Homo sapiens: one gene and its partner. The protein of the gene in region 1 purifies or fractionates together with the protein of each later gene. This does not show direct contact. Each region holds a gene or a part of one and is shown in the gene's direction. Other genes may lie near its edges.

Region 1 (3,963 bases):
ACGTCCCTCCTAGATCTACAGCTGCCCCTTTGATGACAGCGCCATTGAGTCCCCTGGGCTGGGGGGGTCATGCAGGGGTGAGGCAGCTGCCTGCCGCCGGTACTCATTGCCTGGCCAGGCAGGACACAGGCTGGCGGGCACTGAGAGTGGGCCCCACGAAATCCATTGTCAGGTTACCAGGATGAAGAACCCAGGCTGGTCGTGGAGTGCAGGGCGGGGCCTGCCGGAAGAATTATGGGCACTGCAGCAGGAGGGCAGCCTGGGCCATTAGCTCCTGATGTCATCGATTTGGGTGAGGGGACAGGGAAGTCAGAGGAAGCTGGCCAGTGGCTCTCACGAAGACTTACAGCAGCGGAGTGGTGCCTGATTCCTAGTACAGCTGCTCCCACTGAGTCTCCAGGGATCTGTGGTTCAGGACCCCCTGCAACCCCCTCCCAGACCCCTGTACTGGTGGGAGGAGAGGACCTAGAGGAAAGGTGCTGGGCAGATAAGCAGCCGAGGGAGGCCCTGGGTTTAGCTTATCAGTCTTCTGGGCCCTCCTGCCCCAGGAAGGGCAGCGAGGACCATGGTGTTGCCCCTGTCATCGTTATCGTCCTGGCCATGAGCTTGCAGGACTGGGAGGGCCGGAGTCAGCCAGGCAGACGGCAGCACAGCATTTGCCTGTTGGCAGGTGGCCTTGGTGGCTTCCCAAAGGCAATCGCTCCACGCAGAACAAAACTCACTTTTTTGGGGGGTGAAGCACCTTGGTTCATTTGTTTAGTTCGTTAATTCCAGCAGTCTGTTTCTAAGGGAAACATGGCTGCAGCCGGTCCTGCCCCTCCACCCACCCACCAGGTGCCCAGTGTTCCCAAGGGCCCCGAATCCCAACCTTATTCAGGCGTCAGCATCTCTGCACCCCAAATGCCTGTTAGGGAGGATAGTGAAGGCTGAGCCCTCCTGGGCTCATCAAAAGCCAGCAGTGAGAGAACACCCCCATCTCTCTGAGGTGACCTTGTAGGGCAGTCCGTGCTGTCTGGCTGGCCTGGGTGAGGTGGGCAGGGACCAAGGCCTGGCGCCTGGGCCTCGCTGGCCTTGCTCTGCGTGCTGACTTCATCCTGATAGTACCTTGATTTTCCTACTGTGACTTCCCCTTCTGTCGACTTCCTCACCAACTTTAAAATTCCGTATTGAGAGCAGTTTCCTAAGTTACCTCAAATCCTATTCAGAAGAAGGTTCTTCCTGGAAGTTGGGAGGGCGGAAAACAAGTTTAGTCACAGAAGACTACTCCATGTTTGAGCTTCTGTTTCAAGGGAAGTGAGTAACTGCCGGAGGAGCCCTGCCCCTCTGCAGTGTGTGGTGTTGCCCTGATACTTTTCAGATTGAGGTGTTACTTACATGTAATAAAATGCACAGACTTAAGTGTATACTTTGATGAGTTCTGATGAATGTCTACATGTGTGTAATCACCACTGCAATCAAGATGGAAGGAAAGGCTGGGCGCGGTGGCTCACACCTGTAATCCCAGCACTTTGGGAGGCCAAGGTGGGTGGATCATGAGGTCAGGAGTTCGAGACCAGCCTGACCAACATGATGAAACCCCGTCTCTACTAAAAATAAAAAAATTAGCCAGGCGTGGTGGCAGGCACCTGTACTCCCAGCTACTCAGGAGGCTGAGGCAGGAGAATTGCTTGAACCCAGGAGGCGGAGGTTGCAGTGAGCCAAGATTGCGCCATTGCACTCCAGCCTGGGCGACAGAGCAAGACTCCATCTCAAAAAAAAAAAAAAAAAAGATGGAAAGACAGATTTCTATTGGTGATTCTTAAAAGTAATTTATTTATTTATGTATTTATTTATTTATTTGAGATGTAGTCTTGCTCTGTCATCCAGACTGGAGTGCAATGGTGTGGTCTCAGCTCACTGTAACTTCCGCCTCCTGGGTTCAAGCGATTCTCCTGCCTCAGCCTCTGGAGTAGCTGGGATTACAGGCGCTGGCCACCACGCCCGGCTAATTTTTGTATTTGTAGTAGAGACTGGGTTTCAGCATGTTGGCCAGGCAGGTCTCGAACTCCTGACCTTGTGATCCGCCCGCCTCAGCCTCCCAAAGTGCTGGGGTTACAAGTGTGAGCCACTGCGCCTGGCTCTTAAAAGTAATTTCTTTCTGCTTATAAAATTCATGTTCACTGTAGAACACTGGGGATTGAGTAGAGAGGTCCGGCCACGATGCAGGGAAACACTGTCTCAAGCGCCCCACCGCCCCACATGGTCCCCAGAGACAGGGCCCCTAAGCGCTCACGTACAAGTAAAGGCGCTGACTGAGTGCGTCATCTGCACGCATACAAGCACTGCTAGCATTCTGGCATATGTTTCTTTCAGCTTTTTTCTGTGCAGATATATATTACATTTTTTTCTGTGTATATTTATATATATATGAAACCAGATCAGTTACACAATTTAGTATTTTTTTAACCTTAATGTAGTATAAGCATTTCCCCCATTGTACTTTGTAAATATGATTTTTAAGAAGTCATTGGTGTCTACTTTGTGATATTTGACTCAACCAGCCTTGATAACAAAGAGTAGTTAGAGACAACTGAATTTTTAAAATGTAAATCTGCTTTATTTTTGGAATAAATAATACATTTACATGGCTGGAAATTCAAAGGATACAAAAAGGCATATACTCCAGGCAACCACTATGACCAGCTGCTGATCACAAGTAGAGAACTTGTTTCTTTTCACCCCTCTTGCTCCTCCCCGGAGTTATGAAAAATTTCAAACCTGCCAAAAGTTTGAAGTTTACAACAAATACCCTCCAACGTTTGGGTTGTCTCCCTCCCCCTTCTCTCCCTTTCTCCCTCTGATTTCTTACAGAACCACGCTTTCATGACCATGCCCGGGAACTTCACGCTGGCGCGGTGAGGTCCTGCGCCTCCGCTTCCTGCACACACGTGCTTCTTAATAGCTGCAGGCTATTTCATGAGAGGAATTTGCTCACGTTAACATGGCTGTTCCCAAATGCCAGGCTGTTTTAAGTGTTTCCTAATTATAAACAGGCTGTGCTGTTTCCCTTGACCTAGGACTTGTTCTTGAGGACAGAAGTGGAGGTGGCGAGATGCAAGGCCTACGTACGGACCGGCTTCCCCAGTAGGGCGGCGCCAATGGGGGGCTCCCAAGCTGCTCCCATCTCACCTCTGCTTCCGGGGTGCTGGGGGTTTGGGCCAGTGTTCCTTCTGCTTTTGTGAAGGGCCCTTACACTCGACTCGAAGTGCTCCTCCTATTGGTTTTTAATAAATATATTTATGGAAAGCTTTATGAATTTGCGAGTCATCCTTGTGCAGGGGCCATGCTAATCTCTGTATCGTTGCAATTTTTGTATACATGCTGCTGAAGGGCGCACTCCTCTTATTGTTGTATAGGTTTTTAAGGTAAATATTCAACATCAATTCCCATTTGTTGCAATTATTTCCCTTCTTTGAGGTTTTTAATTTGCAGCATTTTTACATTTATTTCCTTCTATTTATTTATTTTTGAGAAACAAGGTCTTGCTCTGTCGCCGAGGCTGGAGTGCAGTGGTGTGATCATAGTTCATTGCAGCCTCAAACTCCTGGGCTCAAGTAATCCTCCTGCCTTGGCCTCCCAAGTAGCTGGGACTATAACTGCACATCACTGTGCCCAGCAGCATTTCTGTATTTTGGAGAAATCAAATCTATGTACTTATTTTCCTCTGTAGCTTGTCCTATCACTTTTGAGTTTAGAAAGCCTTTGCCATCCAGAAATCAGACAGTTTTCCCACTGGTTTTAGATTCTTTAATCCATTTAATATTATTTTGCCCAGAGAATGAAGCAGTGGCCACATTAGTTGTGACACCCCCCATGCCCCGCCCCCGCCGCTCCTTAAGCGCATCTGAGATGCCCTCTCCATTCTGCTCCCTCCCTGTGGGCCTTGCTAGCCTGTTGCCTGGCCCTCCGAGGGTCTGGGCCATG
Region 2 (7,294 bases), on another chromosome or scaffold:
TGAGGGTTACTATAGCCTTCTAGGTGTTTGACCAAAATAAACGTTAACACACACGAGCTGGATCTATGTAACAGCAAGATAGGAAAGTCTACTTTAATAACATACCCAACAGACATTTTCGAGACATTAAATGTAGATAAAATGGTAACTGTTCAAAGCTGTCTTAAAGCCCATAGAGTCTCATCTCCTTTCCTATTTAGGTTCATGTACTACTTAACATTTATGATTTCTTTATTTTCTTTCTCTCCCTGCTTTTGGTGGTTAGAGTGTAAATTGTTAGTTTCTGTTTATTTTTCTGAGCATTGTCAGCCTCAGAGTTAGAAAACCAAGATGGTCTCACTTCTGAAACTTCTCCCAGTTCCTTTGGTTCTATATCCCCAGCTGGATTCATGTGTTGATCCAGAAAAGGAGAGGGATATTGCCGTGTTTTGTTTTTGTTTTTGTTTTTGTTTTTGTTTTGGCAAAGGGCTTGGGACCCTGAGTAGTAAGTAGCAGACGGTCCCAGTGCTAATTAGATAAATCTAGCCTTACAGGCTAGACCAGATGGTGGGTTGGGAGTTGAGCAGTAGAAAGGCCTAATGGTGATAGCAGTGAGTATTTGGATATCATTATTTTATTAGTTAGCAAACAGAACCATCCTTGTGGTCCCTCTTCGGTTTTATGTGTAATGGTGCTGTAGGTGTCAGCCCCCGAGTTGGCACAATAGCCTAATCAATGTATTCTAATGCCTTTTTTGATATACACTGTCATCTCATTAGCAACACACAGGGAAAGGAGAACAAATAGAGTTTTACAAATCACTCTTAAGTATCAGATCACATAAGCCTGGGGGCCTCTGAAAGAGCAATTCCTTGTTTTGTTTTCCTTGAGGTAATTTCCTAGGGAAACTTGCCCTTGACTTTTTTTGGATTACTGCAGTAGATCACCTGGACTCTGGCGAGGGCAGCTGAGCTTGGCTTTTAAAAAATTACCACAATGCCTCTGACAGTGGACATCTCCTTCAAATAAGAGAAACAGTGAAAAGTTTTTTTGCTTGAGGTATATCTACATGAGACAAAGCCCTGATGAGCTTGGTCTGTTTGAATGTGTTGTGCTGTTCTGCCCGGGCCCATGATGTGGGCACTCTTGTTCTATGCTCACATCAAGGGTAAGCCACTTCTTCCTGGCAGGGAATCACACGGTGGGACTCAGAGGGATTCAAATGAAAACCGAAACAAGGCCTATAGGCACAGTGCCAGTTAACATCTCATTGGTGCTGTTGTGTGGAGTGGATGCTCCTCACCAACAGACATTCCTCCACCCTCAGATCTTGCCACCTTACCAGGCTGAGCCTGCTGCCTGCCTGACCCTGCAGTTTGTTCTCAGGAGCTGCAAAGTGCAGACTAGGGCTGTCATGGACATTGGCATAGAGCATAGTGGGAAATGAAAAGAGCCCTGGCCATCCAGCCGCAGCTGGGCTTTGTTCTGTTTCCTCTCTTGGTAGAGTTAGAGATTAGTATTAGCAAGGAGCTGTTCCAGAAAACTGGTCTCTAGATGTTCCAGTTCTCTTTCTCTTAAATGAGAAAGTAAGATACAAATTTATGAAATGACTTTCTTCTCCAAGGTCACATAACAGGTGTTGAATAGGATTCCTGCCCCAAGAAAGCTCTACCTGTATCATCTTTTTCTTGGAACCAGTGGGTTTGCATTTTCATTTATCTTGGTTTTGATCTCTGGGACAATAACAGCTGTTAAATGGCTCTCTAGGAATAATTTTTAATAACTTTTTCCTTATCTAATCTCTCAAGCGGTATTTCCTAAATGTGAACTAAGACTCAGCAGGTGGTTGTGGTGGTGTTGACTATCCTATAGTTTCCTGCTAAGGTGGGAGAAGAGACATACTTTTCTTGCCTCCTGTGTTTTGTTCATTTGACATTTTAGTTTGAATGAGAAGGTATTCTTTAGCATTTCTAGACAAGGTTCAGGCCCTTAGGAAGTCCCTAAAGTTTCTTGGCCCCAGAATTTTTACAGTATCAACTCCAAAGTTTCTTATCCTCTTTTCTTTCTTTGTCTGATGCAGCTTCCGTGAATGTGCTGGTGCAGAACTGCAAGATCTACAATGATGCCAGCTGTGACATTTCTGCAGATGGCCAGCTCCTGGCAGCTTTCATCCCCAGCAGCCAGAGGGGCTTTCCTGATGAAGGCATCCTGGCAGTGTACTCCCTGGCCCCCCATAACCTGGGCGAAATGCTCTACACCAAGCGATTTGGTAAGGGATAGGAAGCCCAACCTAATGACAGAGGGACGCTGGTGCCTTGGCATGGTCATTGCTAGGTGAGGCACAGCTTGGGTGGGAGTAATGGTCACATACTGCCCCTACCTTCACTGGGGCACAGGCCAGAGAAAGATTGCTTTGCAGGAGTGCTGGCTAGTAACATTGCAGAAGCATCTGAGCATTAGAGTCCTACCGCATGCCCCTGTTACGACGGTCAGGAATAAGGGAGGAGGTGGTTGTAGCACACACATGCACTGCAAGACAGTTTGGCATTGTGTATTTAAAACCTCCCAAAATGTGTCAGCTCTTTGGCAATCCAGCTTTTAAGGAAATAATCAGAAAACTATACAAAGATTTACATACAAGGGTGTTCACAGCAGTGTTACCATACAGAAAAATGCCAAATTGTTGCCTTGAGACTTTTTTGTTTGTTTGTTTGTTTGTTTTGCGGGAGGGTGGGGTGGGTGTTTTGTTGGTGTCACCTTGAGTTGAATTTAAGTGTTTTTTGTTTTTTTTTTAAGAGTTGACTAAACAAATGATGGTGCAGTGATAGAACTGCTCCATTGGCCCTTAAAATGCTCTTACAGAACAGTGTTCATAATGTATTAAATGAAAAAGGTGGGTTTCAAAATAGTAATTACAGGATGTTAACAATTTTTTAAAATGTTGATAACAACGGTTAGCATTTATTAAGTACTTTCTTTCTTTTTTTTTTTTTTTTTTTTTTGAGACGGAGTTTCACTCTTGTTGGCCAGGCTGGAATGTAATGGCGTGATCTCAGCTTACCGCAACCTCTACCTCCCGGGTTCAAGCGATTCTCCTGCCTCAGCCTCCCGAGTAGCTAGTATTACAGGCATGCGCAACCACGCCTGACTAACTTTGTATTTTTAGTAGAGATGGGGTTTCTCCATGTTGGTCAGGCTGGTCTCAAACTCCCTACCTCAGGTGATCCCCCGACCTCGGCCTCCCAAAGTGCTGGGATTACAGGCATGAGCCACCGCGTTCAGCCTTATTATGTGCTTTCTATATGTCAAACACTACACTCAGTATGTATATGCCTTCTCATCATACTCCTCACTACAGTCCTATGAGATAACACCAGGATGAGCAAGTGAATATGAAGATTAGAGAAAAAGACAAGAGTAAGAGTGAAAGTTGTTTCCTTGGAATGGCCAGAAGCCTAGGAAATATTTCTCTGTTTTGTTGGCCCTCAGGTCCCAATGCCATTTCGGTGAGCCTGTCCCCAATGGGCAGATATGTAATGGTGGGCTTGGCCTCACGAAGGATCCTGCTGCACCCCTCCACAGAGCACATGGTGGCCCAGGTCTTCAGGCTGCAACAGGCCCATGGTGGAGAGACCTCCATGAGGGTGAGTGCCATTGCTTGTGCCTTCACTGTATGGCAGCTCCCCTAGGCTTGGAAGGGTAATGAGGGGACAGTGGTGTGACCTCCCAGCCAGGACCAGAGCTATCACACAGTCATAAGGAGTAAGGAAGGGCTGTAGTCAAGCCCATCCATGACCAGCAGGCTTCATTTGTGGAAGCTCTGGACTATCAAAGGCCTTTCCTCACACCCTAGAATATGTGCTGCATTCCCCAGAGGCCTGCAAGTATCTTCAGATAAACTGAATACTTCCTTACTTCTACGTGAAACTTTTAATCTGGAGATGCATAAAGGACCCAATGAAATGCTTATTTTTAAAGCTTTTTGTGTGTGTGTGTGAGGGAACAAGCTGTAAAAAGTAATAGTATGCCATGAAATGTTTTTTTTCTGTGGGTTATAATTATGATGGAAGATGAAGACTTTAGGCAGTTGCTGTATTCTTAATCATCCCATTCATTTCACCAGTGGAGAAAAGGTCCTGTCTAGGACCCTGTCTTGTCTAAGGCACGTCTCTCTTATATTGCCATAAAAGCCTTCTGGGCATCCTGTGGTTCGTGGCCTTTTGGCCTCAGCCAGACTAACGTGCCTGAGTGAACGTCCCACGTCCCATAGGTGCTCATTTAGCCAGGGTTTTGTCAAGGGGATTCAAGCATTTGAACAGTTCTCTAATTAGATAGTATTCAAGCTTTGTCAGAATCCAAGAACCTGTGAATTTCCTTAGTACTTTGTGCAATCTGTACCATTTATAGTTGGATGTACTTGTTGGTCCATTTTTTGTCTTCTTTAGCTGTGTAGCGTATGTGTTTAATCCACCCAATTCGGTTCAGTGTAAGCTCCTTAGAGGGATATCCCTCAGGTCCCTCATTTAGTGCTGTGCATGTAGATGGCTGTTGAATATCTGGAATGGGAAGCATTTGTTTTAAATAAAAAAACTAGAGATAGCACCCATTATATACAAAGTGATAGAAAGTGGGTGGCCTGGTGTGGTCCTTTCCTCTCCAGCCTCTTCTCCCTCCTGTCTCCTACAGATATCCTCTGTCCAACTACACTGAGCCACTTTTCAAGCTTCTTGAATTTGTCAAAGTGCCTTCTTGCCAGGGTACCTTTACTTGGAATGCCCTCCTGTCCCCTATCTCCAGCTACCTGCAAGCTTTTTACTTTCTGTGGCATCCATCTTAATAGAATTGATCACTCGTTCCTTGTGCTATCATTGTACCTCTTACACATTCTCATGTCAGTACTTGTCACACCAAACTGCAGTTATTTGTTTCCATGTCACTCTCTTCTCCTGGGCTGTGAGCTCCTTGAGAATAGAGACTGTGTCTGTTTTATCTTTATGAAGTCCAAGAACTTCATGCGGAACCTGACACTTAGTAGAAAGTGAATGAATGAATGAAAGAGAATCTCAAAAAAAAATAAATAAATAAAAATAAAGCATCCTCTTTATCATTTCTAGGTGGTAACTAGCAGAACCAATGATGGGTAACATAACATCATGTCCCACCAAGCTTCTGAAAGGAAAACAAGTCATTCTGTCCTCTTGATATCACAATGACAAGAAAGTTCTGATCTTGAATTCCATATGGCTGGAAATATTTGACATTGGGTGAATAGGAGATGTCATTGTGGGATGTTCATCAAGTCTATTTTCTTATCTAGATATTTGAGGATGGAAGTTGAGTTTTCATTTAAATATTCTTCTTTTGCTTCTCTTAAGCAGAAGCTGGTCTCTGCTTTTCACCACCTGGAATCCCAGTCCCAACAGCTGCTCTTCTAACCCTTCCGGCCTAATTGTGGAATAATCGTTTAAATCATTAAGAGACAGAATCTGATGTTGGTAGCTCTGACAGACCTCTCTAGCTTCTTTCATAAGCCAGGGCTCTTGCCCAGCTCCTGCACACAGCCTGCCAGTTCTCCATCTTAGCACAGTTCCACTTTTCCATAGTAGCCAGAAACATCTGGCTGAAGACAAACAGTTACAAAGCAGAAGCCAAGGTGATGGGATCTGTTGTCACATATGGGGCTGGCAGCTCAAGGAATGTGGTTCTCTGCTGAGGAGATGTGGTAATCCAGTCAGCCCCTGGCTGTCCTGCCAAGGGTCTCAAGGCAGCTAGCCAGCAGCTGCATGCTTGGTGACTGGAGCTACTACTACTGCCAGGCTGCCTGGTGAACCTTTTTTGATTCTCAGTAGGTACCATCTGCCACCAAGCACTAAGAAAGGGAGCTGAAGTACCTAGAAAGTTCCCATTTGGGAAGTGTTCCTGTCACCCAAGAGACAGGATCAAGGCATCTCAACAAGGTTTAGGTCAACCAAGTGTCCACCCAGTCTGACTTTAAACCCCCATGCTACAGAAAGGTTTCTGGTTTTCCAGGTCTTGGTTGCCCCTTACGTCCAAAGGCACCAGATCACTCAGCAAATGTCCCTGAATTCAGTGATTGGTGGAAGGGAAGACACCAGCTTTTTTGGATAGCTGTGCTGTATCACCGTTTAAGGCAAGAAGTGAATTTTTGTCTGAGAACAGGGAGCAAGGGTTTAATGGGACAGTACAGCATCTCCCTCTTTGCACAGGTAAGTATAGGTGGGTGTCTCCATCTCTAATGTCAAGCTCTGACCATAAAGGAATGCTTTAGTGGGTAATGGGCCTGTCCTAGAGCTTTGCTACCCAGAATTCCCCTTCTGTCTGGTGTTACCTCTTGGAATTCACTGTGGTAATGTTCAGAGAGGCAAATGTGTTGGGCCAACAGACATTCCCAGGAGAACATCCTCCAGAGCATTGATTTATTTTAAGATGGCACTAAGTGACATCTCTCCCCAAGAGATGATCTCTGACACAATCCCATATGAAAACTCTTCTGAAAATGAATTGCTAATTGCTATTAGCCTTGATGCACTTACTCTAAGCAGTTCTTCAGACTTCTGGATCAGTGCTTCTCAAACTGTGGTTCTTGGACAACTTACAGTAGAACTACATGGGTCCTTATTAAAATACAGATCCATTTCAGACCTAAAATCAGAATAAGAATGGGAGTCAGAGGGACCCAGGATTAGTATTTTTAAAACAAGATTTCTTCATTTTAGGTGTCTGCCCTCAGCCTCCTCAGCAAGGCAGAGTCAGTCTCAGGTCTACTTGCCATTGTGGTTTTGTGCATGGTGCTTTGATTCTTTGCTAATTATGTTGCAGGCACAGTGGTGTTTGTCTTCTGTTTCCTACCAAACTCAGCTTTTTTGGCTGTCTGCGCCTCACCTCCCATCTTTTCTAGGCTGTTGCTGCTTTCCAGGTTTCTCCCTTGAATAGCTGTATGTGCTGGAGTCTTTTCTTTATGTTGAATCATTTTAATTTTTGTCCTTATTTCTAGGATCTAGGGTCCTTTTGATCTTTCCCTTCTCTGTTTATCGTGCTAGTCCTCCCAGTTTTAATGATGGGTAAGTCAGGAAAGTAAGACTGGGCACATATTTTCTCTCTCCCTTCCCACTGTCCATTTGCGATTCCTCCAGACTGGATATGCTACTCTCTATGACTCAGAATCTTATTTTCTGTCTGATTCCCTTCTGCTTGAGCCAGAGAGGGCTTTTTGTTAATTTTTGTTTTGTTTTTAGGTTAAGCTTTTAGAGACTGCTGAGCTGAAGTTTTGCTGAATTCTCAAAACACTAAACTG

What was found.
Region 2: the proteins of ANKRD9 (region 1) and AMBRA1 purify together in Homo sapiens (affinity purification with mass spectrometry; 2 studies listed by BioGRID and IntAct, with this or other methods). This does not show direct contact.

Annotation. Positions count from the first base shown.
Region 1 is NC_000014.9:102,501,089-102,505,051, reverse strand, and holds the end of ANKRD9 (ankyrin repeat domain-containing protein 9), read left to right. Parts: 3' UTR 1-3,285; downstream 3,286-3,963.
Region 2 is NC_000011.10:46,429,803-46,437,096, reverse strand, and holds part of AMBRA1 (activating molecule in BECN1-regulated autophagy protein 1), read left to right. Parts: intron 1-2,059; coding exon 2,060-2,248; intron 2,249-3,468; coding exon 3,469-3,623; intron 3,624-6,009; exon of another isoform or gene 6,010-6,206; intron 6,207-7,294. UniProt on the Homo sapiens protein: Substrate-recognition component of a DCX (DDB1-CUL4-X-box) E3 ubiquitin-protein ligase complex involved in cell cycle control and autophagy.